7 linked regions of the Homo sapiens genome follow. The protein of the gene in region 3 purifies or fractionates together with the protein of the main gene of each other region. This does not show direct contact. Each region holds a gene or a part of one and is shown on either strand. Other genes may lie near its edges. The genes, in order: PKP2, ACTR2, DUSP4, ITPRID2, QKI, MYO1C and GNAI2.

The links.
Region 1: the proteins of DUSP4 (region 3) and PKP2 purify together in Homo sapiens (affinity purification with mass spectrometry; one large-scale study listed by BioGRID and IntAct). This does not show direct contact.
Region 2: the proteins of DUSP4 (region 3) and ACTR2 purify together in Homo sapiens (affinity purification with mass spectrometry; one large-scale study listed by BioGRID and IntAct). This does not show direct contact.
Region 4: the proteins of DUSP4 (region 3) and ITPRID2 purify together in Homo sapiens (affinity purification with mass spectrometry; one large-scale study listed by BioGRID and IntAct). This does not show direct contact.
Region 5: the proteins of DUSP4 (region 3) and QKI purify together in Homo sapiens (affinity purification with mass spectrometry, with the first as the bait; one large-scale study listed by BioGRID). This does not show direct contact.
Region 6: the proteins of DUSP4 (region 3) and MYO1C purify together in Homo sapiens (affinity purification with mass spectrometry; one large-scale study listed by BioGRID and IntAct). This does not show direct contact.
Region 7: the proteins of DUSP4 (region 3) and GNAI2 purify together in Homo sapiens (affinity purification with mass spectrometry; one large-scale study listed by BioGRID and IntAct). This does not show direct contact.

Annotation. Positions count from the first base shown.
Region 1 is NC_000012.12:32,876,081-32,880,165, forward strand, and holds part of PKP2 (plakophilin-2), read right to left. Parts: intron 2,953-4,085; coding exon 2,840-2,952; intron 2,464-2,839; coding exon 1,766-2,463; intron 1-1,765. UniProt on the Homo sapiens protein: A component of desmosome cell-cell junctions which are required for positive regulation of cellular adhesion.
Region 2 is NC_000002.12:65,247,998-65,252,082, reverse strand, and holds part of ACTR2 (actin-related protein 2), read right to left. Parts: intron 1,057-4,085; coding exon 984-1,056; intron 1-983. UniProt on the Homo sapiens protein: ATP-binding component of the Arp2/3 complex, a multiprotein complex that mediates actin polymerization upon stimulation by nucleation-promoting factor (NPF).
Region 3 is NC_000008.11:29,340,213-29,344,297, reverse strand, and holds part of DUSP4 (dual specificity protein phosphatase 4), read left to right. Parts: intron 1-4,054; coding exon 4,055-4,085. UniProt on the Homo sapiens protein: Regulates mitogenic signal transduction by dephosphorylating both Thr and Tyr residues on MAP kinases ERK1 and ERK2.
Region 4 is NC_000002.12:181,915,149-181,919,233, forward strand, and holds part of ITPRID2 (protein ITPRID2), read left to right. Parts: intron 1-67; coding exon 68-1,279; exon of another isoform or gene 1,280-1,451; coding exon of another isoform or gene 1,452-1,538; exon of another isoform or gene 1,539-1,689; coding exon of another isoform or gene 1,690-1,749; exon of another isoform or gene 1,750-1,857; intron 1,858-3,174; exon of another isoform or gene 3,175-3,322; intron 3,323-3,449; coding exon 3,450-3,527; intron 3,528-3,606; coding exon 3,607-3,734; intron 3,735-4,085.
Region 5 is NC_000006.12:163,574,926-163,579,010, reverse strand, and holds the end of QKI (KH domain-containing RNA-binding protein QKI), read right to left. Parts: 3' UTR 419-4,085; downstream 1-418. UniProt on the Homo sapiens protein: RNA reader protein, which recognizes and binds specific RNAs, thereby regulating RNA metabolic processes, such as pre-mRNA splicing, circular RNA (circRNA) formation, mRNA export, mRNA stability and/or translation.
Region 6 is NC_000017.11:1,475,578-1,479,475, forward strand, and holds part of MYO1C (unconventional myosin-Ic), read right to left. Parts: coding exon 3,854-3,898; intron 3,159-3,853; coding exon 3,039-3,158; intron 2,916-3,038; coding exon 2,833-2,915; intron 2,616-2,832; coding exon 2,510-2,615; intron 2,395-2,509; coding exon 2,314-2,394; intron 2,020-2,313; coding exon 1,928-2,019; intron 1-1,927.
Region 7 is NC_000003.12:50,252,812-50,256,725, forward strand, and holds part of GNAI2 (guanine nucleotide-binding protein G(i) subunit alpha-2), read left to right. Parts: intron 1-212; coding exon 213-373; intron 374-3,380; coding exon 3,381-3,509; intron 3,510-3,911; coding exon 3,912-3,914. UniProt on the Homo sapiens protein: Guanine nucleotide-binding proteins (G proteins) are involved as modulators or transducers in various transmembrane signaling systems.

The sequences.
Region 1 (4,085 bases), on a different chromosome or scaffold from region 3:
TGGAAAACCAGGGGAAGCTGGTGCCCTGAAAACCAAGGGATGAGAGAATTTCATGGTGTCTCAAACACCACCCACAGGTTGAGTAATATAAGCAGTGCTTATATTACTCAATATAGTGTCTGCTTAGGATGTAGCAGATAAGGCCATCATTGCTACATTTGTCAGGAGACTGTTTAGGTGGAATGGAGGGGACTGAAATCATATTGCAGTGGGTTGACGAGAGACTGGGAAGTGACAGGGTGGTTCAAGAAGCAAGGGACACAGAGATGGAGGGAGAGAATGCCAGTTGTTGGAGGATGTCAGATAATAATTTTGTTACTGTTAAAATCATTTTGCTAAAACTGTGGCTATCACAAATCCTAGGCTATGGTAGGCATTCCATAAATTTTGAATTACCTGTTTAAAAGCCTTTATCAGCTTTTTCCTCCATAAACAATGACCTGATACACTTTCTCTTTTTTTTTTTGAGACAAGGTCTCACTGTGTTCCCCAGGCTGGAGTGCAGTGGCACAAATCTTGGCTCACTGCAACCTCCATCTCCTGGGCTCAAGTAATCCTCCCGCCTCAGCCTCTCGAGTAGTTAGGACCACACGTGCACACAACCACACCCAGCTAATATTTGTATTGCTCGTAGATATGGGGTTTCATCATGTTGCCCAGGCTGGTCTTGAACTCCTAAACTCAAGTGATTCGCTCGCCTGGGCATCCCAAAGTGCTGGGATTACAGGCCTGGGCCACTGCTCCCGGCTTATTTTTCCTCTTTGTAAGTATGCTCATATTGCCTAAGGTCTGCTTACTATAAGAAATGTTAGAAATCTCATGGTGAATTTTACATCATAAAAAATATTTCCTGTGTTAAGATTAGATTAGCCCTCATCATTTTGAGAAGTAGTTTATTAATGATGCTACCTGGTCAGTGAGCATGCTGTACAATTTCACTTGAAGGGATGTTTAGAGGTAACAACTATCATTAGACAACTTTAGCAATCAAATGACAATAACATATCTAATGTTTTAGCCTAATGATGTTAGATCATTATTGCAGGAGTTACTGATCTAATCAGCCATCCATTTCTCAATCTTTCTCTTAGTAACGTGCACAGTTTATAAAATTTGTGATCAGGCATTAAACTTGAATAAGGGTTAAGTTCCAAACACTAAATTAGTCAAGCTATAAAGTAAATAGGAATGGAAAGGAATGACTTAAAAATTCAGTTATTTTAATAATTTAATACTGCCAAAAGAATACCCCTTCAAATCACTGACACTAGAAATCTAAAAGGTACCAAGTACCAAAGGAAGAAAAAAGACATCTAGAAGTCAGCCATCTTTCCTTAGCTCTTTTTACAGTCATAGTTATCCAAATGGCATTCGTGCTAAGAATAAGCATTTTTTCCTTTTATTTCATGGGATGATGAAGAAAATACGCATGCAATTCTCCAATTCTTGGCCTACTTTGGAGTTTAGAGCAGATTTTCATATGGCTGAGGGGTAGGGTCCCTTCAGCCAGCATCTAATCTGGAACAGATGGACTAAATGTCACATTTCCATACAAAGCTGCCATGTGAGCAGGTAGCTTGGCCCCTGTCCCTGAGGTAAATAGGCTGATCTGTCAATTAGGCAGCTGCCTGAAAAGTCATTATTTTAATCACTTATCTCTGGAAGCCCTTCTCTCAAGCCCCAGAAGTGCCAGCTCATGCTGTCAGGGCTGTGGGAACAGAATGTGCTGGCAATGACTGAACTGCAGAGTCAGGAGGGGACTTACCCCAGCTGGGAGTCAGTGAAAGTGCTTCTCTCAGTGAGCAGATTCCCACTTCCCCCTGCGGCCGCCTGGCCGACAGTCAAGTGCGCTCTCCTCCCGCTGGAATCCACGGCGACACTGGGCCCAGCTTCCCTCAGCGTGCGGGTGCTGTGGAAGGAGCTCTGATGCCAGGAGGACCTGGAAGCCCTGTTCTGAGTGACGGGCTGCAGGGGCACCAGCGGCCTGACCTGCCCGACAGTGAGCCCTGCCGTCAGGTAGTTCTCCTTCTCCAAGAGGTTGCCCATGCTGCGGCTGGTCCCTGGCCTGGGGTACGTGAGCAGGGCCGGGTTGGCAGGGATGCTGTCAAAAACGGTGTCGCTAACAGAGCCATGCTGGTACTGTCTGTGGTATGTGTCAAAGTGGCGCTGCCTGCTTGTGGTGCCAGCACGGCTGACCCCCACGATCTCGGAACGAGCATATCTCGGTGGCACTAGGAGGGCGGCCCGCCTGCTTTCTTGGTGGTGCAGGGTGTGCCCAGCCTGGCTTCTCTGGCTGTACTGGTAATCGCTGTGCGTGTAGTGAGCCCTCTCCGGGCTGCTGTCAGGAGAAATCTCCAGTCTCCTCAGAGGATGCCTCAAGGACCTTTCTTCCACGGACTTCTGGGAGCTGTACTGTGCTGTTCCTCTTCCCCAGCGACCTTCATAAGTGGCAGTTGTGCCAGCCTGCACATGAGAGAAATAAAGTTTAAAGGGGGCATAAATCAAATTTCAACTTTGCTGAGGACTAATTACTCTGGGACTATTACCCAACATGTCCGTTTCTCTGAATCAGATGACGAGAAGTTTGCCCCTTTCTGGGTAAAGGCTTTTTGAAAATAAGACTTGGTTGACTTGAGTCATATTTATTTGCACTAGGATGTAAGAATGTTTCACATCCCTAGTTTTCCATGGTATCCTCATAAATATCAATTTTCTCAAAACTCATTTAGGAAATGATAATACTTGGGAAAAGTAAACACTCAAAAATAATCTTAGGAAGTTTGAAAATATTTTCATGGTAGTAATCTGATCACTAGGGTTACATTCTTTGATATCCTACCTTTAGCATGTCATAGGTTTTAGGAACAGGGGAACGGCCTCCAACAAAATCATTTTCAACCAAGTGTAGGTTGTAGACATACTCAGGAACACTGCTGGTTCGGTGAAGATTTCCTGCAATCAAGCAAATATTAAAATAACTCAGAATACAAGTAGGCTAATTAATATTTACAGACTGTATAACAATGATGTATTAAACTTTTAAATTTAAGTAATGAAGGCCAAGAACAAGTATTAAACGTACGTTAATGTTTTTAAATGCTAGTTTCACACCACCCTGGGATATGGCAAGTGATCAAAGGTTATCAAAACATTCTCTACAAAAGTTTTTCAGCTGGGTGTGGTGGCGCACGCCTCTTATCCCAGCACTCTGGGAGGCAGAGGCAGGTGGATCACCTGAGGTCAGGAGTTCAAGACCAGCCTGGCCAACATGGCGAAACCCATCTCTACTAAACATACAAAAATTAGCTGGGCATAGTGGCGGGCATCTGTAATCCCAGCTACTCAGGAGGCTGAGGCAGGAGAATCACTTGAACTCGGGAGACAGAGGTTGCAGTGAGCCAAGATCACACAATTGCACTCCAGCCTGGGCAACAAAAGTGAAACTCTGTCTCAAAAAGAAAGTTTTGGCTGGGCACGGTGGCTTACACCTGTAATCCCAGAACTTTGAGAGGCAGAGGTGGGTGGATCACCCGAGGTCAGGCATTCAAGAGCAGCCTGGCCAACATGGTGAAAGCCCCTCTCTACTAAAACTACAAAAAATTAGCTGTGCGTGGTGGCAGGCACCTGTAATCCCAACTATTCGGGAGGCTGTGGCAGGAGAATCGCTTGAACCCAGGAGGTGGAGGTTGCAGTGAAGCTGAGATTGCGCCATTGCACTACAGCCTGAGCAACAAGAGTGAAACTCTGTCTCAAAAAAAAAAAAAAAAAGTTTTCAAAATGAAAGTTGAATTTAAAAAAAGAAAAAGAAGGGAGAGGAAATTCACAAAAATCTAAAAATGTTTGGTTGTTATAGTGCTGAAAAATTTGGGACTCATTGTCTGGTTTAGCTGGTCGAGACTATAAAATTCAGTTTCCCGAGTCACAGAACTCTGTTCCCAAGGCAGGAATTCGGAAGCTTCTTGTAATAAGCAGGTGTAGGCAATAAATATAATGGTGACTCAGCACTACTAGATAAGACAGCTTGTATAAACAACAGGATAGGCCGGGCGTGGTGGCTCACACCTGTAATCCCAGCACTTTGGGAG
Region 2 (4,085 bases), on a different chromosome or scaffold from region 3:
TTCTCCAAACACACTTGACCCATTTCCAGTGCCACACTCTTTTCCCACTGGATTATCCCCTGAAGTGCCTAAAAGACTCCTTGGCACATATCTGACAGGCCCAGACATTCTCAGTAAGTTCCTGTTGAATTTATAAGACCATAAAAAAAAAAAAGAGCTCTCCCAACGTGGCCAATATTTTATTTCCAATAAAGAGGGAGGCAGTTGCTAATGGCAATATCAAGAGAATATATAAGTAGTCCCCTCCATTAAACCCACCTCAAAAGTTAGAAATGCACTCCCAAATGTTTACCTTCTCCTTTTTAATCTACTATATATTTGACAGGCATGATTTTATGCTACCTTTTTGAATCTCTGCGTATTTTTTTTAACTCAAGCCAATTCTGGGGACAAATTCCATGCATAAAAAATTAAAATAGCTATGCCAGGCACGGTGACTCATGCCTGTAATCCCAGCACTTCAGGAGGCTGAGGCGGGCGGACTACCTGAGGTCAGGAGTTTGAGACCAGCCTGACCAATATGGAGAAACCCCATCTCTACTAAAAATACAAAATTAGCCAGGTGTGGTGGCACATGCCTGTAATCCCAAATACTTGGGAGGCTGAGGCAGGAAAATCACTTGAACCCAGGAGGTGGAGGTTGTGGTAAGCCAAGATTGCACTATTGCACTCCGGCCTGGGCAACAAAAGCGAAAATCTGTCTCAAAAAAAATTTAAATAGCTTAAAAGAGAGAATATCCTATTTTTTAAAAAATAAGTCTTTAAGCCTTTTTTTTTTACCTTAAATACATATTTAGCAAATAAAAATGTATATAAAATCTTATTTCACAAATTTTAAAAACTGAAAATATTTCAAAGTGTGGTATATAAATAATGTAGTTTTCTGGGGCTTATAACTTATTGAGAAACCAAATTCTCTGACATAAAACATACATAATAAATGTTTGATGAAGTGTTTTTTCTAACAGTTAAGCTTAACCTACCTTGAGCGTACAAAGTCAGAACTGCCTGGATGGCTACATATACACCGGAAAACTGGTAAGTTTCAAACATTACCTGTAAATGCAGACAGAAAGAAAAAAACTGGTATTTAGAAAATTACATAATAAATAAATGTTTTCCTCATGGTCACAGAGTGAATTAATTGCCCAAAATAGAATCAAATGGACCTGAAATAGTCTTCCATTTTCATCAGCTCCTCTTATTTCTTATTGAAGTCCTGCTGCCACAGAGCTCCAAATCTGAAGACAGATTTCTAAGTCCCCAAGCATTTCATAAGCGTGACAAAGCAAAGATTTCTTAGTGTATTAGTTAATGACTAATTAGTGTGAAAGAAAGCTCTCTGTATTGAACAAGACTTTCTTAATTGATATCCCTTAAGGGAAATTCTTTTTTTTTTTTTTTTTTTTTGAGATGAAGTCTCACTCTGTTGCCCAAGCTGGAGTGCAGTGGCGCAATCTTGGCTCACTGCAACCTCCACCTCCAGGGTTCAACTGATTCTCCTGCCTCAGCCTCCTGAGTAGCTGGGACTACAGGCATGCACCACCATGCCTGGCTAATTTTTGTATTTTTAGTACAGACAGGGTTTCACTATGTTGGCCAGGCTAGTCTCGAACTCCTGACCTCATGATCCACCCACCTCGGCCTCCCAAAGTGCTGGGATTACAGGTGTCAGCCACCACATCCAGCCAGGGAAATATCTTTTTTTTTTCTTTTTTTGAGACGGAGTCTTGCTCTGTCGCCCAGGCTGGAGTGCAGTGGTGCCATCTCAGCTCACTGCAACCTCCACCTCCCTGGTTCACGCCATTCTCCTGCCTCAGCCTCCCGAGTAGCTGGGACTACAGGCGTACACCACCACACCCGGCTAATTTTTAGTATTTTTAGTAGAGACAGGGTTTCACCGTGTTAGCCAGGATGGTCTCCATCTCCTGACCTCATGATCCGCCTGCCTCGGCCTCCCAAAGTGCTGGGATTACAGGCGTGAGCCACCGCACCCGGCCGGGAAATATCTTTTAATTCGAAGACAAAATATAGAAATTGCTTTACAGAGCCTCGTACCCCCTCCCTCAATCTGGGCCAAGAGTGTAGCTCTGTCTACCCTGAGCAGCTTAAAAATTAAAAGAAAGAAAGAAAGAAAAAATAAAAAACCCAGTAAAATGCCACGGCAAAGACAAAAATCAATGGTTAATTCCTGATTGCTGGAAGATACAGAAATGGCTTAGCTGCTGAGCCCAGTCCCTACTTGAATCAAGACTGTAATTACAACCTCCAAATGAACTACCCTGGAAGGAGGAGTTCTTTCCTTTTTGCCCTCACTGGTCACACACATGTTCATTCTCTGTAGCCCAGGTCAGCTGGGAACATCCTGCATGATTTTTTTTTTGGTGATCTTGACTGAGCACCCCTTGACTGGTAGGGTTGCCTATCACTCTGAATATCTAAATATTTAGAAATTTTACAACTGACCACAATGAAAATTACACAGAATTTAAATTCTACAACTCTGAAACACATACTCATCAATTAAGCAATTAGATAGTCTGAATAGTATTTTATTCCATCATCCTTTATTCCACCTCCACAGGGATGAAAATGGAAGAATGATCATATATATGCACATACCAATGTGAAAGCATGTTAATGAGATTAAGGTAGGACACTATCAGTCATAGACATATTTGTAGTCATAAACAAATAAGAATATTAAAATATAAGCCATAAGAAATCATATGGATTCTTTAAAACCATGATCTTAGATTTTCAAAACACTTAATACAAAAACTGAGTTTTAATACAGGCTTTAAAAATACTAACAACATTTTCTTCTAAACCCTTTCAAAAATTTCCATCAACATTTAAACATATTCGTAAACAAAATATGTACATTAAACAGTAACTGGAAAGCTACAGAAGTTATTAAATTTCTACTTCATATATACAAAAATAAAAGAACCTTGAAAAATTACTTATTTAAACTATGAGGATCATAGCTCTCTTGCTCTCTCTTTCCTCTGTAACTGCTTATTTCATTATTTCATTAACTTTTTTTTTCTTTTTCTTTTTTCTTTTTGAGACAGAGTCTCGCTCTGTCGCTCAGGTTGGAGTGCAGTGGGGTGATCTCAGCTCACTGCAACCTCCACCTCCTGGGTTCAAGCAATTCTCCTGCCTCAGCCTCCTGCGTAGCTGGGATTACAGGCGTGCACCACTATGCCCAGCTAATTTTGTGTTTTTAGTAGAGACGGAGTTTTGCCATGTTGGCCAGGCTGGTCTCAAATTCCTAGTCTCAAGTGATCCACCCGCCTTGGCCTCCCAAAGTGCTGGGAGCCACCTAGCCCGGCCTCAATAACGTTTTCAATCTCCTTCTGCTGGCTCCTCCTATCTCTCTGGTCCTTGGCCTTTTCACCACTGTCTACCCTCTTCTTTGTTGAACCGTATCATTTATAGCCCTACCTTCAAAACAGACCTATAATCTGGTAATTTCTCACTATCTCTACTACTACTACTTCAATCCTAACCATCATTATCTTTTGCTTAAATGACTGAAAAAGTCTCCAACTCTTCTATCTTTGCCTCCTTGTGGGATACTCACAACACAAGAGAAATCTAAATCTGAGCATCTCCTTTTCCTGTAACAGCCCCATATTTCACCCACAGTAAAAGCCCAATTCCCTTTTTTTCTTTTTGAGACTGAGTCTCACCCTGTCGCCCAGGCTGGAATGCAGTGGTGTAATCTCGGCTCACTGCAGCATCTGCCTCCTGGGTTCAAGCGATTCTCCTGCCCCAGCCTCCCAAGTAGCTGGGATTACAGGCACGCACCACTATGCCCAGTTAATTTTTGTATTTTTAGTAGAGATGGCGTTTCACTATGTTGGTCAGGCTGGTCTCGAACTCTTGACCTCGTGATCCGCCCACCTCGGCCTCCCAGAAGTGCTGGGATTACAGGCCTGAACCACCACTTCCAGCCGCCCAATTCCTAATTAGAGCCTACAAGGCACCAATATTACTTACTCGACCTCATCTTCTGTTGCTCTCTCCTCAACCACACTGGCTTCCTTGCTTATTCTTTAATATACCAAGCTTGTTCC
Region 3 (4,085 bases):
CAGGAGATAGAAATGCAGATTTTAGGCACCTGCTGCTTCAGAGCTGGCAAAACTGACACGCAAATAAGTAGATCCTGGATATTTAGAAGCAGAGGATATTGGAACTTAAAGATCATTATAATCAGAAATTCTTACATTTTGAGAGTGGGAAAAACCAGAGTTGAGGAGGGAACATACTTGTCCAAGTTCCACAAGTTGAGTTGGACTTACACCTGGATCTGTCTCCACTTCTCCTTGCACACCTGCTAGGGGCACGGGAAGGAGCCCAGCCCCTTTGTAGACAATGAGAATAAGCTTTCCCTTTCATGATTTTTTGGGATAAAACTAGGTGATCTAAATCTAGCTCTTGAAAGGGCTGTGGCTATGGTACTTGCATGGATTTGGGGATGGGTAGGAGGGACTGAGTGGAAGTCACCTTAGAATAATCTTTTTTAACCCTGCCCACAGTAAGAAACACATTTTAATTTATATTGTGACCCAGGAGAGGGATACATGCACATCTGAAGAAAAGTTCCATAAAATGATATCCTCTTTAAGGGCAGTGCATCCTCCTAATTCCTATTCTATTGTATTCCATTTTAAAAATGTGGGTCATGACTCTTTAATGACAGCCTGGATTAGGAAACCAATGGGTAGAAGCAGAGTTTGGTGAAATATCAGCAGTGCCCTATTTGGATCAGTTCTGTTTTTGCATGAAAAGTCTGTCTTCACTTGATGAAACCTGCAGGCAGTGCCCCCTGGAGAAGGGCCCACCAGGAAGGGGTGGAAGGCAGAGGTGGCATAGACTGACACCCAGAGATGACTTACTGGGGCATGGCCCTGTGGGGGGTGGACTTGAGCAGCTTCTTCCACCGATGGATAAATGCTAACTTGCATGCATCCTCCCGCATCACCTTCACTGTGTCCTCCGGGCTCCACCAGCCCAGAACATATCGTTCTCACCCATGAGTGCTGGCCTGAGTGCAGCCCAGGGCCCACCAAAAGGAACCCCCTTTAGTGTGGCATCTTGTGAAACCAGCCACAGACCCCCAAAAGCTGGCCACCACTGTCAGGGACGAGAACCTTCCAGTGTTTCTGCCCCTTGAGCGAATCTGCTTCTTCACCTTGTTCCTTTTTTTTTTTTTTTTTTTGAGATGGAGTCTCGCTCTGACGCCCAGGCTGGAATGCAGTGGCGCGATCTCGGCTCACTGCAACCTCCGCCTCCCAGGTTCACGCCATTCTCCTGCCTCAGCCTCCCGAGTAGCTGGGACTACAGACACCCGCCACCACGCCCGGCTAATTTTTTTGTATTTTTAGTAGAGACGGGGTTTCACCGTGTTAGCCAGGATGGTCTCGATCTCCTGACCTCGTGATCCACCCGCCTCGGCCTCCCAAAGTGCTGGGATTACAGGCGTGAGCCACCGCGCCCAGCTCACCTTGTTCATTTTTGCTTGTTCTTTAAAACTCCCTCAGAGGGAACTGACTTTTCTGTAATCATTTTTCTGCTGCCTTCTAATGGTGCCTTTTCCAGACAGTTGCGATGAGCCTGGGGGAGATGACGAATGGCCCTCTCAGGCCACATCTAGCCTGTTCCCCACCAAATGGGTCACTTGGGCCCTCCTTGCCCCCCACACCACTCCATGGCCAGCAGCCGGTGCCAGGTCCCTGACAAGGGTTCTGCTGAGTGGCAGCCATGGCCATGCCTGGGAGAGAAGATGGAGGTCTGGAGGTCTCCGGAAACCAAGAGACAGGTTTCCAGGAGAGCAGGCTGTCAAATGCCCAGTACCTTACCAGCATTACCCTGTCCCCGGTTCCTCTTTGGCCTTTGAGGATCTCTGCTGAGGGCATCCGAGGGCACCCCTCCATGTAGGCACCGAGAAGGGAAAACTTCATGATCTGTCTCCCTGATGCCAGGCACAGAGCCTGGCTGTCAGAACCAGTCCTCATAGGCCTTTGTGCAGGGGACTTTCATCACTTACAGACGAGGAGGAGGCTCCGAGAGGTTCAGGAGGCCCGGGCTGCACAGGTGATACATGCTCAGGGTGGGGTGCAACCTCATGGCAGAGCCTGTGCCCTTTCGGAACTTCACTCCAGTGCCCTGTTCCATACCCTCAGCAATGGAGACAACATCCTCTCAGCTGCTCTGGGCTCTTCCTGCTTCTCCAGCCCTGAGGGCCACTCTGCTCTGTGACCGTGGGGCCTGCCCTGGCACTCCTGGGCCACCCAACCATTCACTTTTGAGTGCAGGCGATAGCTTGTCTGTCTTGGTGGTGAGTTTTTGCAGGACACCACCTGTGTCTAACATGTTGTTTTAAAATGTGTTTTAATAGCTCAAATTATGTAATAGACAAAAGGATCATGTACTTAGAATTTTTTCAAATCCTAGAGAAGTATATAGAGTAACAAGTGATGGCTTGGGATACAAGTGATCAACCACTGTTAATGAATGAGTTTCCCTTCCACTTTCTCCGAAAGGGAGCATGGACTGAAGTTTCCCATCACAGAAGCCCCTGAAGGACTTCAGCTGCAGACAGATATTTCCTTCCTCTTCCCTCATCCTCTAATTACTGCATTTTGGGCAGCAGTGGTGGCAGCCGAATAAGGAAAGGGGTTTATGATGGGAGGGAGGGGGTGCTTCTGTGATGAAGTGGCTGCCGAGGCCACCAGCATGACCGAGGCTGACGGTACCAGCCCCACCAGCAGGTTTTCCATCCAGGGAGGCTGGTCACTGTGACTCAGCAGGAACAAGGGCCTGTGACCAGAGAGAGATCCATTTATATCCTGAGGGAGGGAGAGGAGGGGAATAGAGAAGCCTCCGGTCAGAGAGGAAAAAATGTACACCCTGTTTCTATAAGCCTCATGATGTGGTAGAGAACCGTTTCCTTCCTCTCAGTAGGAAGCAGTCTTTAGGGTTGGGATTTGGCGCAAGTGACTGACTCACCGTCACATGTCTGCACATTGGAAAATTTCTATCAATGGCCCTAGGGCACAGAGGTCCTATGTCACTGTCATGAAGACCGCAAAGGTAGCGACATCCAGGACTGTTGGCCAAATTGTCATTGGAGTCAGTTGAATGGGTTTGTTGGAATGGTGGTTCTCCAACGCACAGGCCCTACTGAATCAATTGAATCCATTTCTGGCCCTACAGACACTGTAAAATAAAAATAAAAGCAGGGCCATACATTGATAGCACTGTGGATTGGAAGTTGGCCGCAAAAGGAAGTCCCAGAGATCACAAGAAAGCCAGAGATAGGGCTTGAAAGGTTGTCTTTTTGGATGGCCTCCCTGTGGCCTCTCCCTGTATCCCACCTGCCTCCACCCCTCCTAGATAGGAGCACTCACCCTACCCCAGCTCAGCTGGCCATTTATCATCATCTTCTTTTTTTATTTAAAAGATCTCCCTTCTCTGGAAGATGATCCCACAGATAACCATTCCAGGGCTTACCCACTCTCAGGTCAGGAAATACTCCCTTGCCCCAAACCTGTACATAGCATGAGGGGTTTATTTAGATTTAAGCCCGTTTTCCTCTTGTTCTGGTCTCTTGGTGACGGAACAGCTATTCATGAGGACGTGCAATGGACATCTGTTCCATTGCTGAGATCCAGAAGAGTTTGTACCAGGGTCATTTTTTCCCTTCTTTCTCACATTGGAGAACCTCCCCTGAGGAAGGGCTGGAATCAGGGGTGGCAGGTGTCTCTACAGGTACTTAGTGTCCTTGGAAGCCCAGCGTGACCTTTGCTTCTCTATTTTGTCATTGTCCTGAGGAGCTACTCCACAGTCACTTCTGCACATCCCCCTGCACGTCTTCCTTTGTATGTCTACCTCTCTAACCCAAGTCTTGTCCATAAAGCTTATCCTTCCAGCTTTGCTGCAGTCCTGACGAGTGTGTCCTCTGCATCTCTGGAAACCACTCCATGGCCATTCTCTAGGTCCACAGCGCCACCTAGTGGCCAATATGGAGCACGCCAGCCCCTGCCTTCCTAGCAGTCCGCCTGAGTCTGTAGGAGTCGAGTTCTTTCTGACTTCCTGCTGGCTTAGTGACCCCATTAACCTGAGCTTCTTTCTCCTTTACAGGCGGCTATGAGAGGTTTTCCTCCGAGTACCC
Region 4 (4,085 bases), on a different chromosome or scaffold from region 3:
TTTGGTATTTTGTTAGTGACTCTTCTTACATATATTCTTCATCTTTCCACCTATTTTCTTTTCACAGGTTCAGGAGTCCTTGCAGGCTATGGGGAGTAGTGCTGATAGTTGTGACAGTGAGACAACAGTTACGTCACTTGGTGAAGACCTTGCCACACCAACAGCACAAGACCAGCCTTATTTTAATGAATCAGAGGAGGAGTCTCTTGTCCCTCTTCAGAAGGGACTAGAGAAGGCAGCAGCAGTTGCAGACAAAAGAAAATCAGGTAGCCAGGATTTCCCTCAGTGCAACACCATTGAGAATACAGGAACTAAACAGTCCACCTGTAGTCCAGGGGATCATATCATTGAAATTACTGAAGTGGAAGAGGATTTGTTTCCAGCAGAGACAGTAGAGCTACTGAGGGAAGCAAGTGCTGAAAGTGATGTGGGTAAAAGCAGTGAAAGTGAATTTACTCAGTATACCACACACCATATTCTGAAATCATTGGCTTCTATTGAAGCTAAATGCAGTGATATGAGCTCTGAAAATACAACTGGGCCTCCCTCTTCCATGGACAGAGTTAATACAGCTTTGCAAAGAGCTCAAATGAAGGTTTGCAGTCTGTCTAATCAAAGGATGGGGCGTAGCCTGCTAAAATCAAAAGATTTGTTAAAACAAAGGTACTTATTTGCAAAAGCTGGCTATCCTCTAAGAAGGTCTCAGTCTTTACCAACCACCTTATTGAGCCCAGTAAGGGTTGTGTCCTCTGTCAATGTTCGATTATCTCCAGGAAAAGAGACCAGATGCAGCCCACCTTCCTTCACCTATAAGTACACACCTGAAGAGGAGCAGGAATTGGAAAAGCGGGTGATGGAACATGATGGTCAGTCTTTAGTTAAATCGACCATTTTCATCTCTCCATCATCTGTGAAGAAAGAAGAAGCCCCCCAGAGTGAGGCGCCGCGGGTGGAGGAATGCCATCATGGAAGGACTCCTACCTGTTCACGGCTTGCTCCACCACCAATGTCTCAGTCTACCTGTTCCCTTCATTCCATCCACTCTGAGTGGCAAGAAAGGCCCCTGTGTGAGCACACAAGAACTCTGAGCACTCACAGTGTTCCCAACATATCAGGGGCTACTTGTAGTGCCTTCGCTTCCCCTTTCGGGTGTCCTTACTCACATAGACATGCCACCTACCCTTACCGAGTGTGCTCTGTGAATCCTCCTTCAGCCATAGAAATGCAGTTGCGAAGAGTATTACATGATATTAGAAACTCACTGCAGAATCTTTCACAGGTATGAGAAAAAGTATGTTATCATTAGCTTTTTTCTTTTACTGCTCTGAGCACTTTTTAATTCACAGAGAAGCTAAGGCACATCAAGTATGAACTACCTCAGCTTTATTTTCTGACATGTCTAAACTTAATCTGCATCTGCCTTCGTTTTCTATCTTCCCTCCTGTTTCAAGGGAGAAGCTGTAACTAACCCTGATCAAAGTCGATTTCTCTGCTCACAAGTCTGTCTCCTTTCCAAGAGGAGAGATTTTTCTCGTTAAGTATCCTCCCATTTTTAGTCTATCATCCACTGTCTTTGTTTTAGTCTAGAATCTTTTGTCATTTCTATTATTAAAAAATCTTCCCTCTTAAAGTTCTTTCTCTCTTTCTCTCTGCTATTTGAACATGTTGACTACCTTTTCCTTTTCCAAGTTTTCTCCCTGTTGGCTTCTGTGGCACCACGTTCTCCTGGTTCTGCTCGTAGCTCTCTGACTAAGCTTTCCCCTTCACCTACTGACCCTCGATGCTGTGCACAGAGTTAGTCTACTTCCACTGGACTCAAAGACTGGAACTACTCCAGACCAGAAAATAACAAATCAGGTAAAGTGTGAATTTGATTTAAAATGCTCTGTATGTCTTGTCACTTTTAAAGTCATTCTCAGATTTGTTAGTAGACTGGAAATAATTTTCCCAAAAAAATTTTGAAAATAAGTACGTTGTCTTCAGTTTTGCCTTTTACATTTTCTTGAACATTCTCTCTGAATGAATCATGTTTAGACAATTGAGGGATTGAAGAAAATGACAATGTAATATAGTCATGAGAGCATTCAACAAAGAGTCAGGAGGCCTAGAATGAATGTAATAGACCTCTTATCATGACATAGTAGACAGGGAGCCACTTGGAAAGTAAAAATCAAAGGTGTAACTTCTCAAGTTATAATAAGATATACCTCCTCTTAACTGTAAGTTTTATCCTCATGACAATTGTCCCCTAACAGTTTTCTGTTTAAACAGAATGTGGGTGTTTCTTATTCCTCCTTACAAAATATAGTTCTGTCTGTGATGGAACTTGCAGCTGTGATTATGTCAAGCTGGGGATTTCCAGGACCCTGTCCACCAGTACCGTGGTGCATCTTTCTAGGCCACCTAGTTCTTCTGCTCCAGCTGTGGTCTCTTTCTCCTGGATATCCCAGCAATAACTCAGCTAATACATCTCCCCATGCCTACCCCACCCTACACTAGTGGACAGGTGCTTTCTATGATGTGGTCTCTGACTATCTCTCCAGCCTCATTCCTTAGCTGTAGGATTGTGCACAGGTCTCTAAACAGTTGTGTGTTCTTAGGTATCTGCACATGGCTGATTTTGTGTTTTGTTTTTTTAAAATAAAAAGATGAAGTTTCTGTTTCTCGCCCACGTGGAGTGCTGGAGACAGTGGTGTAATCATGGCTCCCTGCAGTCTTGAACTCCTGGGCTCAAGTGATCCTCCTGCCTTGGCCTCCCAAAGTACTGGGACTATAAGCCACTTTTTTTTAACCGAGATCACCCAGTCTTTGCCTTTCTTTGCATAATCAAGCCCTATTTACTGTTAAGGCTCAGTTCAAGTAGTGTTACCACTTTTGGGAAAGTTCACGTAATCTGAATTTTTCTGTGTTCATCATAGCACTCCTTCCACAGTATTAGAATTTTTTTAAAATTTCCTTTATTTTTCTTTACACTGTGAGAACACCTGAAGGCTGGGAATACCTTTTATGTTTTTATCTCACTGCCTAAAATAGTGGCATATAGGAAATGCTAAGATGTCTGAGAAAGACGACAATGATTGCTTGCTCTCCAGCAAAGTTAATAATCACTATAATCTCATGATGATATTTGCAATGGCTTCTACATTTTTGCGTTTTGATTTTGTTTTTTTTTAGTTTCGCAAGAGGGAAGTCCTGAAAGAAATAGATGTGAACTATGTTCCTTCGCCTCCTCCTCCCACGTAGATTGACTTATACCTGGAACAGCTAGCAGTACTAGGTGTCATTGGGAACTGATTTCTTTTTTCCTGCTTACAATATGAAGGTTTTTTGGATCCTTTTGTCTTAAAGAGAAAAATATATAGGCCCCAAATTCTGCCTTTTAACCCCTTAAGTGATTTGGAAGTATTCACTTTAACATTGGTTTTAATCCTACTTTTACTTTTTTGAAGTACCCTATGATGAGAGGACCTGATCCTGCTGCTGCTCCATATAGTACTCAGAAATCATCTGTTCTACCTCTTTATGAAGTAAGTTCTTTCTTACATCTTTGTGTTCCAAAATAATTTGTAGAATTTAGAAGTGTAATTTTGTTATATTGCATTCTAGAATACTTTTCAGGAGCTCCAGGTAATGAGGCGGAGCCTGAATTTGTTTAGAACACAAATGATGGATTTAGAATTGGCAATGCTGCGTCAGCAAACCATGGTTTATCATCATATGACTGAGGAGGAGAGGTAAAAGTTCATTTTGTCTTAGCACACCTCAAAAAGCTTTTCATTCAAAGTCTTCTCAACTTATATTTTTTAAAATTAGGTTTTGATTCTACTGCTGTGTACCTTGTATCTGTTTTGTGAACCAGTGTAGATAAGATTAGTCATAGATAGTGTTTTACTAAGTAAACTTGTATGCCTTCAATATCCTAAGGGTAGTGGTAACCTGCTTTCCCGTGTTTGAGATATTTGTGAGAGGATAGGGGAAGAAAGACTAATGTCCTTGTGGATACACCTATTGTAGTTGATATTGTACTAATTTCTAGAACCTGAGATTTCCATGCCTTCTGTTAGCATATAGTAGTTGTTGAAAGA
Region 5 (4,085 bases), on a different chromosome or scaffold from region 3:
TTTCTCTGCCAAATAGGCTCATATGGAATTCAGTGAAAGGGACATAAAGTCAAGCTAACACTACATTTTTTCTTTCATTTCTCTCCATACCGGGTTGCTTTAATCCTAAGAGTAACGGGAGGTTTCTAATTCATTTTAGACTCAACACCAATACTTACTGATGACAGACCACTTCTGGAAGTGATATCAAACTTTTCCACTTTATTTCATTTAAAACCAACTTTACTGCTAGTAGCCCCCGAACTGATGCCTGAATGATGTTCTGGATGAGGCATATGTATGTTTGATTTGCTAATCTAGCTTTTTTCCCTGAGACTCACATTTAACTCTTAGTTTCAGGACTTGCATTGCGTTCCGCTCATGAGCTTTAAAGTTTTACATTTTCCCGCCACCTAGGAATCTAGAAATCTAGAGTCAGTTTAAATTCTGGACAACTTTTTAATGCTGTTTTACCTCAGTGAGAAAGCAATGAACAAAAGCATATTAACATATTATCATTTAATTAAAATGTATTCAAACCAACTTTCAACTTGTACTACCAGTATGTCTTAATTTTATAAATCAATCATTGAAAACAATGAATGTAATAAGGGAAGCACTAAAATTCAGGTTTCAAGCACAGCCAAGGCACTTTCCTCATTCCCAAGCTTGACAGTTCTAAGGTAAAGGAGTGAACATAAAATCTTTAGTATCAACTCAAATAGTTCTGCAAGAATTGTGGATTCACTTGCAAATATTTTCTTCTCCTTTTGCTCTTCATCATTTTTCTTGTAATAACCTTTATATTAATATCCAGTTAAGTAACCAATGAACATAGTATAGCATACTTTAAAACAGACTACAGTAGATTTTCATCCCAATTTTAGGAGACACTCCTTAAAATTGGAACTGTTGTGTAGCATGTAAAAATAAGCGCTTTCAGAGGGTATACAGTTCACAAAATAGCATTAAACTGGAATAATCTAATTTTAATAAACATTTTTTGGGGAAGATATGATGCCAAACTTACCATGACTATTATTTTAGACATATGTATAGTACAACTATTAGATGGTCAATTAGTTTAACTGCTTTCTAAAGACCACAAATTACTGTATAAAAGGGGTAATCATTAAAAATTACGTTAGGAAGGAAATCCAAATGTCTAGTGCTTCCATTCACTTAAGCACTTCTGTAAACATAAGAACACAATGTGCATGAGTAACAGTGACTAAAATATTCATCTGATTTTTCAGGAGGAAAAACATCAAAACTGATTTTATGTCACCCCTTTTGAGAAGCTGGTTTGAAAGTCAGATCACCATCCTGGACCAGGAAACAAGCACAGATATCCACAGGAGCCAGAGAGCCGGGGGGAAGGATTAAAGCAAGAGAAGAGTAAGAAAATCAACAGCCCAAGTGTGACACTAGAGACAGGAAGGAGTGGTGGGGTGGCGACTAACCAGGGAATACTTGGCTTCAGGGGACCGTTTAATTACTCAGTTTCAGCTGGTGCCTACTATGTTAAGAATACATGTTTGGGCTTTCTAGACACTTTGATCTTTCAGGAAGAGCAGATTTTGTGAAGAATTAAAAAAAAAATCTAATATGGGCAATCAGACTTTTTTTTTTTTAAGTCTAGTGTTGCCACTTTTAAATTATGGCAAGTAGTTTAAAAAGCAAAACACCGTATAAGCCAAACCAAACACACCTTTGGGCTGCTAGTCTGCACGACGGTGCTATGGATCCTGCAACTGTGGGCTACTTTAACAAAGCATTCTGTTGAGGAAAACTAAGGTTCCGGTGAGCAAGAGGAAAGGAGCCAGAGGTACTTGGAGATGATATAAATAAGAAAGACTGGAAAACTTAAGGTACAAGGAGTCATAACATTTAGATGTTAAAGACTCGTAAAGGTTTCACACTACTGGAAATGATTTTTTTAATAAACCAATTCTGTTCAACAGGTTAATGACACTAGTCCTTTTCATGAAGCTGATGAAATCAAGTTTTGGTCAGCATTCCTTTCTTCTTACATTCGAAAACTACATAAAAACTGTACCATTTATTAAAGATAAAAAAATGTTTTGGATGCACAGTCCAACTATGGAACACTGTAGCAGTCTGTTTACTAATCTCCCTTAATGGCTAAAATCAGAGTGAATGTTATGCTCATTTTCTAATGTTATAATAACTCCAGAATGTCAAATTCTTACATTTTCTTTTAAATAGTGTTGAAAGCCTCAATAAAATTGAAAGTGTGCGTTCTTTATTCTCATATTGATACATGCATTTTCTGGGGGTGGAGGATAAGCAGCACTTTCCAGCTGCAGTTGGCTTGAGAGGATGAAGCACATGCACTTTTTCCAGTTGGTTTATTGCATTTCATGTACGGTCATGCAGTTCTCCGTTCACATGTGACCTGTGAACACCTATTTCGACTATATATATATATATACACAATTTCCACAGTAAAATTTTAAATGTTTCATACATACCACTACAATATAAACCATAAAAGATATATTTGGTAATAAAAACTTAATAGCACTTTTAAGTTATAAATTAACTTTTACCCTGGAAGCTGAGATCTTCCCACAATGTGGTGTCTTTTGCCAAGAAGAGGCAACAACATTATAATGTGGAATCAACACTGTGGCTGCCCTTTGCTGCACCTATCGCCTCCTTCTACTATGAATTAATTCATTCGCCTTCTCCCCCACCCCCTGGCAATTAGTGCAGCAGAAACACAGAAACGAGAGGACTGTGCTGAGGTTAACCAGTTTGATTCCACATTGAAGGCACGAGTGCATATAATGTTGGTAAATCTCTTCATATCAAAGGCATCTCAATTTAGATCACTTAAACTACAGATAAAATTAGATGTGTAGCACATATTTCTAAAATATTGTCCATATTTTTTCCATTTTAAATAAAGGTATTAAGGAATTCGTGACAATGTAAAAAACTACTCTATGCACTTAGAAAAATTGTGAATTCGAAAAGTTGGAGAATAATTTTTGCTAAATAAATAATCATTTGGCAGTAAGTTCTATTCTACCTAAAATAATTTGCTTGAAATGCTGTAACAGCTACTTCTTATCAAGGAATAAAGACAGGCATCACATCCTGGTCAAACATGCAAAACCACTCCCACCCCACCCCATCCTAAAACTAAAGAAACCTTAGGCTGTCACACGTGAAAGTGTTATGACATATATATATACACACACGTATATATATGAAGAGTCTTGATTTGGTAGTGAGCAATTTCATTTAAACCTATCGTTTGCTTTTGGCACACTAAAAAATTCAGATCCTTATGTAGTGTTTAGAAAACCATAACCAGACACCGATTGTGTGTACGTATGCACATCCTGGTTTTATGGGCAGGGTGCCTTCGTGACCTCTTACACCTGGAGCTACTGCACTGGTGCGTATGGGAGTAACTACTTTCATGTTAAGTTTTCCCTGACATTTTGCCTAAAGGAAAAGTTTAAGGACATTAATTTCACCAACTTCTTGACTGAAAGCTCAGCTTTCAACTGTTTTGTCAAATAGTTTCAATCAATCAACTGACTCTAGAATTTTACTATTCTTGGAATTTGGTAGTTTCATGTTTAATATTGTAACCTGTATAAAAATGAAATCTGTAATGTTATTTTCGCCTTTTAAAACTTTTTTACATTTCCTACATAAAAGGCAGCAATGACATAATTATACATAAAGTACCCTTAACTGAAAATGAGATGAGGCTGCATTCATAGGCTTCAGAGAATAGTAAATTGCATAGAAATTCATCAATTTAAGTTACATGGTACCATGACAACTTGTATATTAGCAGCTTGACAGACAGCTTCGAATTTTCACAGACTACTACATGAACTGTTATGGCAACGGAAACTTTTACAAATAGTAGCATGTTAAAAGACCTGTCCACCTAACAGTACACTACCCACCGCTCCCATCAGAGACATGACACGGTTTGTTTACATGATCCAAATGACCATCTCAATGGTGATTCGCTGTTATCACTCACATCAGCTAACACTACTCTGTGTATTTATATGTGTGTATACATATTTATGAAATGAGAATACCTGGACAGT
Region 6 (3,898 bases), on a different chromosome or scaffold from region 3:
TCGTTGCTTCGGCCGCTGCGGGCTCTGCTCAGAAGGGGTGGTGAGCTGCGCACTACTTTTCAGAATGGAATCTGCTGCCCCAAGAGAGCACTTAAGTCTTAGGCGTGTTTATACCCTTTCACCCATTTGCTTTTAAGAACTATTTCAAGCAGCTAACCAGAGACACGGACAAAGATTGAAGGCACGGAGATGTTTGTGGCAGCCTTGTGATTCCAGCAGAAACCTGGGAGGCTGGCCAGGGGCCCCGAAGGGCTGGGTGAGAGAGGGGAGTATCTGTGGGTCAGAACCGCTCCAGGAAGTGTTCTGAGGAAAATGTTGTTTGATGATACGGGAAAATGTGCAGGATATTTACCCTGAGCCTTATACACAAGTTCTCGACTACGAAAAAAAATGCATAGAAAAAGGCAGGAGGGAAATGCCTCACACAGTTAACAGCCATGGCCTTTGGGCGACGGGATCACAGGTGGCTTTTGCGCACATTCCAACTTTGCTGTAATAAGCAATATTATTTTTATAATCAGGAACAAGTTTTTAGTATTTATTATTTAATGAATCAGGCAGCCCCTAAACCCGAATAGATTCAGAGAGACTCCTAGAAACAAGTCTTTTTTTTTTTTTTGAGACGGAGTCTCACTCTGTCATCCAGGCTGGAGTGCAGTGGCACCATCTCAGCTCACTGCAAGCTCCGCCCCCCAGGTTCAAGCAATTCTCCTAGCTCCCAAGTAGCTGGAATTATAGGTGCCCACTACCACGCCTGACTAATTTTTGTAGTTTTAATAGAGATAGGGTTTCACCATGTTGGCCAGGCTGGTCTTGAATTCCTGACCTCAGGTGATCTCTGCCCACCTAGGCCTCCCACAGTGTCGGGATGACAGGCGTGAGCCACCACGCCCATCCAGAAACAAATTTTCAATATATTATTATGCAAAAAATACTCATGGCTTTGGCATTCAACAGCCCTGGCACTGACCCCAGCTCGGCAACCCAGATGAGAGCTAATTTTGGGGAAATGACTTCGCCTCTTGGAGTCTCAGTGAGAAAACACCAAGAACCCCTCAAGGAGCAGCTGCAGGTGAAGCGACGACATGCACAGCATGCATCAGACCGCGCTGGACAGAGGCGCTTGTTCCTGTTTCTACCTCTCCCCACTTCAGAGGATTCCTTCAATAAAAATCAATTTCCAAACAAGGAAGATGAAAAATCTTAGCAAGTTTCATTCTCAAACAAGAAGAAGGAGGAAGCCAGGCTACTAGTGTCTTGTTTTTTGTTTTTTTTTTTGGGGTTGAAGTCTCACTCTGTCGCTCAGGCTGGAGGGCAGTGGTGCGATCTCGGCTCACTGCAACCTGCACCTCCCGGGTTCGAGCGATTCTCCCGCCTCAGCCTCCCGAGTAGCTGGGATTATAGGCACCTGCCACCACACCCAGCGAATTTTTGCATTTTTAGTAGAGACTGGGTTTCACCATGTTGCCCAGGCTCGTTTTGAACTCCTAACCTAAGGTGATCCACCCGCCTCAGCCTCCCAAAGTGCTAGGATTACAGGCGTGAGCCACTGCACCTGGCCTTCTTTCTCTTTTTTAAAAAATTCATTATTTATTTTTTTCCCTTTTTTTTTTTTTTTGAGACGGAGTCTCGCTCTTGTCACCCAGGCTGGAGTGCAGTGGGTTGATCCTAGCTCACTGCAACCTCAAAACTCCAGGGCTCAAGTGATGCTCTTGCCCCAGCCTTCTGCATAGATGGGACTCCAGGCGTGTCAGCATGCCTGGCTAAGCTTCTTAGTTTCTGGACACATGTGAGGGGTCCTTAACTCAGCACCGTCCCTGGTCACCTCCTTGTGGCTGGTGTTTTGTGATGGCGGAGGGACTCCTGCACTCCGCAGGCTCTGCTGCAAGTGAGCCCTTGCCCCCAGCAGCCCCGCAGCCCCACTCACGTCAGGAAGTGTGGATGGTGCTTGACAGTATCCTCCAGCTTCTCCAGGAAGGTCAGGTCTGTGGCCTCCCCGGGGCGCAGACACTCCTCATCCTGGGGGGTGTGGCACAGGGGGAAGGACGTATGGGGGACAGGTCAGAGCGCACAGAGGATTGGGGTCACCGTGCTGGGAGGCACAGACACAGGGGAGGGGCAGATCACAGGGAGTCTCCACAGAGAGCTTCCAACTGGGGCGGCACCTCCCTCCATCCTCCATTCACAGCTCTGCCCTGTCTCTACTCAGCCCCAAACTCTGGCCCTCCGTGGACCAGCCTGGAGAGAACGGAGAAGGGGGACATCCTCCCACCCAGCCTCCAGCACCAGGCCTTGGAGGCGCAGAGGACTCACCAAAATCGAGATGATGCCCTTAAACTTCTCCTCCACCAGATCACAGATGATTTTGTTGTTGAAATACTGGACGGGCTCCCACTGAGGGGCAGAAGGGAAGGAAGGGATCACCGTGGGGTCCTGGCACCCTCTCCCAGGGGCCCCGATACCCAGGCTCCCCGTGGCCCACGGAGAGTGCCCCCAGGCTAGCACACACCGCGATGCCCTCTGCCTCGTACTCCTCCTGCTCCGACTTGAGCGTGAGCTCGATGAAGAGCTGCTGCAGCTTCTCGTTGCAGTAATTGATGCAGAACTGCTCAAAGCTGTAAGGAAGGAGAAGAGCCCACAGTGGCTCAGTGGGGACACAGGACCAGGAGAGGGGAAAAGCTGGACGACGCCCCTGAGCACAGGAGGTGAGAAACACAGAGACAGTCCCCGGCTGGCTGGGGAGTCACAGGGCAGGAATGAGAGGCTGGAGGACAGAAGAGAGGGAGCAGGACAGGAGACCGGGAGGAGAGACGGGGGAAAGATGGCACCGACCTGTTATGCTGAAACACTTCAAAGCCATAAATATCCAGGAGCCCGAGAACCGTGGTGCTCCGCCAGCTGGGGCTCTCCACGTCCTAGGGCAGTCATTCAACCGAAGGCGTGGGCCCCCTGCGCGTGCCAGCCCCACCCTGCAGCACCCCCCGCCTCGCCGACGGCCCTCCCTTCTGCCTTGGGAGCAGTGTGGACCGAGCCCTCACCTTGGAGGCCAGCGACCTGTTGATCTTCCCGACGAGCCAGGTAAAAGTGCGGCTGTACACAGCCTTGGCGAGGGCGTCTCGTGCGTACGCGGCCTGCTCCAGGTTCAGCGGGCTCAGGAGCTGTGGACGCAGCGTGAGACAAGGAGATGAATGCCACAGAGCCTGTGCATCCCACCTGCTCCCAGGCTCAGGCAGACCAGGAAGCCGCCACCACTCTGCACTCCCAGCTCCAGCAAGCCTGCAGTATGGGGAGGGGTGCTGGTAGTGGGACCTCAGGGAGGACAGGTGGCCACCCCAGAGGGAAGGTGGTAGAGGGACAGGAGGCCTCCTTCCCGAGGTGGGAGTCTGGTTCTAGCCGGACTGTTACTCTCTTCCTATGTGACCCTGGCCAGCTCACTGTGCTGCTTCTTTTTTTTGAGACAGAGTCTAGCTCTGTTGCCGTGATCTCGGCTCACTGCAACCTCCACCTCCCGGGTTCAAGCGATTCTCCTGCCTCAGCCTCCCGAGTAGCTGGGATTACAGGCGCCCGCCACCATGCCCGGCTAATTTTTGTATTCTTAGTAGATGGGGTTTCACCATGTTGGCCAAGATGGTCTCGAACTCCTGACCTCAGGTGACCTGCCCACCTCAGCCTCCCCAAGTGCTGGGGTTACAGGCGTGAGCCACGGCGCTCGGCTCTCACTCTGCTTCTCTGAGCAGCCTTCCTTCCATCCCTCCAGCATTGCTGAGGGAACCAGGCGAAGGGGAGTGATGGGAGTAGGGGCTGCCTTGGAACAGCTGCCCCTCCACACCCGAGGGCAAGGGCCCGGCCTCACCTCCTCCCCCTTGGCGATGATCTTCCTGTGTGTCAGGGCTTCTCG
Region 7 (3,914 bases), on a different chromosome or scaffold from region 3:
CAAGATCGCCCCATTGCACTCTAGCCTTGGTGACAGAGCTAGACTCCGTCACAGAAAAAAGTAAACAACAACAACAAAAAGGTTTTAGGGCAAGTCTCATCCTAGGGAATCCAAGAATACCCTAGCCTGGGCCCCATTCCAGAGGTCTCCCTGCCTCTGGCAGAGTGGGGGTACATTCCTTCAACTGCCTGACCACCCGCCACTGTGCCCAGGACGACGCCAGGCAGCTATTTGCACTGTCCTGCACCGCCGAGGAGCAAGGCGTGCTCCCTGATGACCTGTCCGGCGTCATCCGGAGGCTCTGGGCTGACCATGGTGTGCAGGCCTGCTTTGGCCGCTCAAGGGAATACCAGCTCAACGACTCAGCTGCCTAGTGAGTGCTCTGAGGGGCTGGGCAGGGCAGGGCAGGGGCTGGGGGAGGACTAAAGGCTGGACCGGAGGGCCTGAGAACCCCCAGAAGGACACTGCTGGTCTTTGCTTATGAAACCGATGACTGTTAACCAAGGCCTTCCTGTTTTTTGGTTTGGGGGGTGGGTGGGTGTCACGTTACTGAAAGGCCAGGAGGAATGACAGGCAGGTGGCTTATACAGTACATCTCTTCCAGGCCAGTTGAGTCTGATCTGTCTTGACAGTCTTCTAAAGAACATTTGCGGCCGGGCGTGGTGGCTCACGCCTGTAATCCCAGCACTTTGGGAGGCTGAGACAGGCGGGTCGTGAGATCAGGAGATCGAGACCATCCTGGCTAACACGGTGAAACCCCGTCTCTACTAAAAATACAAAAAATTAGCCGGGCGTGGTGGAGGGCGCCTGTAGTCCCAGCTACTCAGGAGGCTGAGGCAGGAGAATGGCGTGAACCTGGGAGGTGGAGCTTGCAGTGAGCGGAGATTGCGCCACTGCACTCTAGCTTGGGTGACAGAGCAAGACTCAGAACATTTGCTGCCACCTGTTCTGTGCCAGGCTTCAAGGACACAGTGATGAGTGGAGCAAAGTCCCCATGCAGTGACAATTTAGGGTGTTAGTGAAAAGGTAGAGGTGGAGTTGGCCCAGAGACAGGATTGCTGAGCTCTGAAGGAGAGTCAGCCAGGGGAGGAGTGGATGAGGGGATTCCAGGCAGGGGCATAGCATGTGCAGCATCTCGGGGTGGTGGGGAGCTGGCTGTGCTTGAACATAGGCTGTGGAGGCTGGCTGGAGGGGGCCACAGGGGAGGAAGTTATCTGGGAGGTGACAGGTGTGTGTGTAGGTCAGAGCCCCTGGACCTCAGCTGTGACCCTCGCTGGCCCTAGGCTGAGGAATTACAAGGGGTCCCAGGAATCCCAGAGGCATGACAAGCCTGCACCCTTTCCACAGTTCTGAACTCCTTCCCTGTGGTATCTGTCATGTACTTGGACTGGTGCAGGGTGCTGAGGACCCCACGGGGAACAGGATAGACAGGCTAATAGCCATTGAGGATGGCTGCAGGGGACATCCACAGGCTTTGGATGGTGTCACCAGATAGGCTGCTGTCCCTGTACTCTAGCCTTCCCCTATCTCTGCTTAAGCCAGTCCCCTCTGACTGGAACACCCTTTTGCTCCTATTGTTCATCCAATCCTGAGCCTACCCATAGGGTGGATTTCAGCAAGGGTGGGTGGGAGGAGGAGGAGGGTCTTGCCTGGCTGTGATTCCTGAGCCCTGTCCAAGCCACATGAACAGCCTCCTCCTACCCTTCTTACATGGCCTGAATGCTCTTGTGAATATGTACCCCCTACAGGAGCTGTGGAGTCACAGCCAAATGCTGTGGGGGCCCCCAGGCCTCACCACTGCCCCTCCCTGAGATCTCTGGCCCAGCCACCAGCGAGCTTGGGGTCAGAGCAGCAGGGACCTTGGTGCCCATGATACTCAAAGGAAGCAGGAATAGAGCCACCTCCAGGCCACCTCCTGCTTCTCCATCATCCTCTTTCTCTATTCTCCAGACATTAGGCACCCACTGTGTGCCCAGCACAGTTTTGGGAGTGAATACAGGCCCTGTTCTCCCAGTCAGGTTTAAGCCTTGATAGCTCCCCCTGGGAATGGGTTGCGGATTGGAACACCACAGGAAGCAGGGCTCCTTCAGCCCCTCTTCGCAGCAACCCTCCAAGTGTGCAGCGAGTCAGGGGGTCCCTGGGGCGAACCCACCTGTTGGGGAAAAGGGAGAGGCTGGTGTGGAATGCACCATGGTACCTCCACATTGAGGACTCTGGCAGTAGGGGGCGGGGCATGGTATGCGGGTCACAGCACATGCGTCATCCTTCCCCATGGCCCTTCCTGTTTTTCTGTTTTGTCCCTGCTACTCTGAGATCATTTCCCTCTGGCCTGGTTTGGCCTGGGTGCTGGTGGGAGCCAAGGGCCAGCCCCAGCAGCCTTGCCCCAGGAATGAAAAGTCAGCTCTGGGCAGCAGCCTGGAGGCCTGGGACCAGCCTCCAGGGCATGGCAGGGATATTGAGGCAGGCAGCAGAGGCAGGCCCTGCAGGGGTAGCCTTGATACTAATTAAGGGAACTGGTAATGAGGAGCCCCTGGGACCCCTGCCAAGCAGGTGTCTGTGCCCTCCCCCTGAGGAACCCAGATTTCATTGGGCGCTGGGCAAAGAGCCCACTGGACCTGGCAGGCCCCAACCTGTCCAGCACCACATCGAGGGACCGCACCCGGCTGCTCTGCGGCTAATGCCGTAATTGCGCCCATTAGCATCCTGAATCCTTCACCGAAGGACTAATTTGCCTCCTCCCACCCTCTTTGCCTATAGCTCCAACATCCTGGATCCTGTCCGAGGCAGGTCTGGCTCAGACCCTGGGTGCTGGAGCTTGGCTGGCTAGCTGTCCACAGAGCTGCACCTCCTCCCATTCCCATTCTACAGGTGGGAGGCCGGGGGCTCTGAGTTCAGGTTTCTTCATTTGAGCAATGAGGTAATGCAGGCAGGGGTTAAAGAAACAAGGGCTGTGCCTAGGCCAGGCGCAGTGGCTCACGCCTGTAATCCCAGCACTCTGGGAGGCCGAGGTGGGCGGATCACCTGAGGTTGAGAGGTCAAGACCATCCTGGCCAACATGGTGAAACCCCGTCTCTACTAAAAATACAAAAATTAGCTGGGCGGCAGGCGCCTGTAGTCCCAGCTACTCAGGAGGCTGAGGCAGGAGAATCGCTTGAACCTGGCAGGCAGAGGTTGCAGTGAGCCAAGATCATGCCACTGCACTCCAGCCTGGCAACAGAGTAACACTCTGTCTCAAAAAAAAAAAAAAAAAAAAAAAAAAAAAGCAAGGGCTGTGCTTGAGAAATGGCATGGGAGGGAAGGGGCCTCTTGCAGCTGGCCCAGGGTCCAGCTAAGGAAGCCCCATGCTGGCCCCCACTGACCCTCCCACCCCCCATCCCCAGCTACCTGAACGACCTGGAGCGTATTGCACAGAGTGACTACATCCCCACACAGCAAGATGTGCTACGGACCCGCGTAAAGACCACGGGGATCGTGGAGACACACTTCACCTTCAAGGACCTACACTTCAAGTGAGCGAGCATGTGGACAGGTGGGAGGGGCAGGACCTGCCAGCCTCTGGGGTAGCAGAGGCAGGGGCTGGTCCAGGATCCCCCAGCCCCACTGAGGTTTTACAAGGCTCATGTGTTCTGGGCAAGCACATCCTCACCACCTAGTGAACCAGCAGTCAGGATCCACGCCACCTCTGCCAGCTGCTCACAGCCTCTGCTGCTCCTGCCTGATGTGGCTGCAGCCTGCCTGCTGTCCAAGCTCCTGGCCCAGAACCAGGGGTGAAGTGGGCAAGTGTGGATGATTCCAGAAGGTAGCTGCCCTACTCTGGGCAGGCCTCTGTCCTCAGTCAGCCAACCTGAGAAATGGGGTAGAAAGCCTCCCCCAGGCTCCCTTCCTGGAACTAAGGTGATCTATATCTGCAGGAT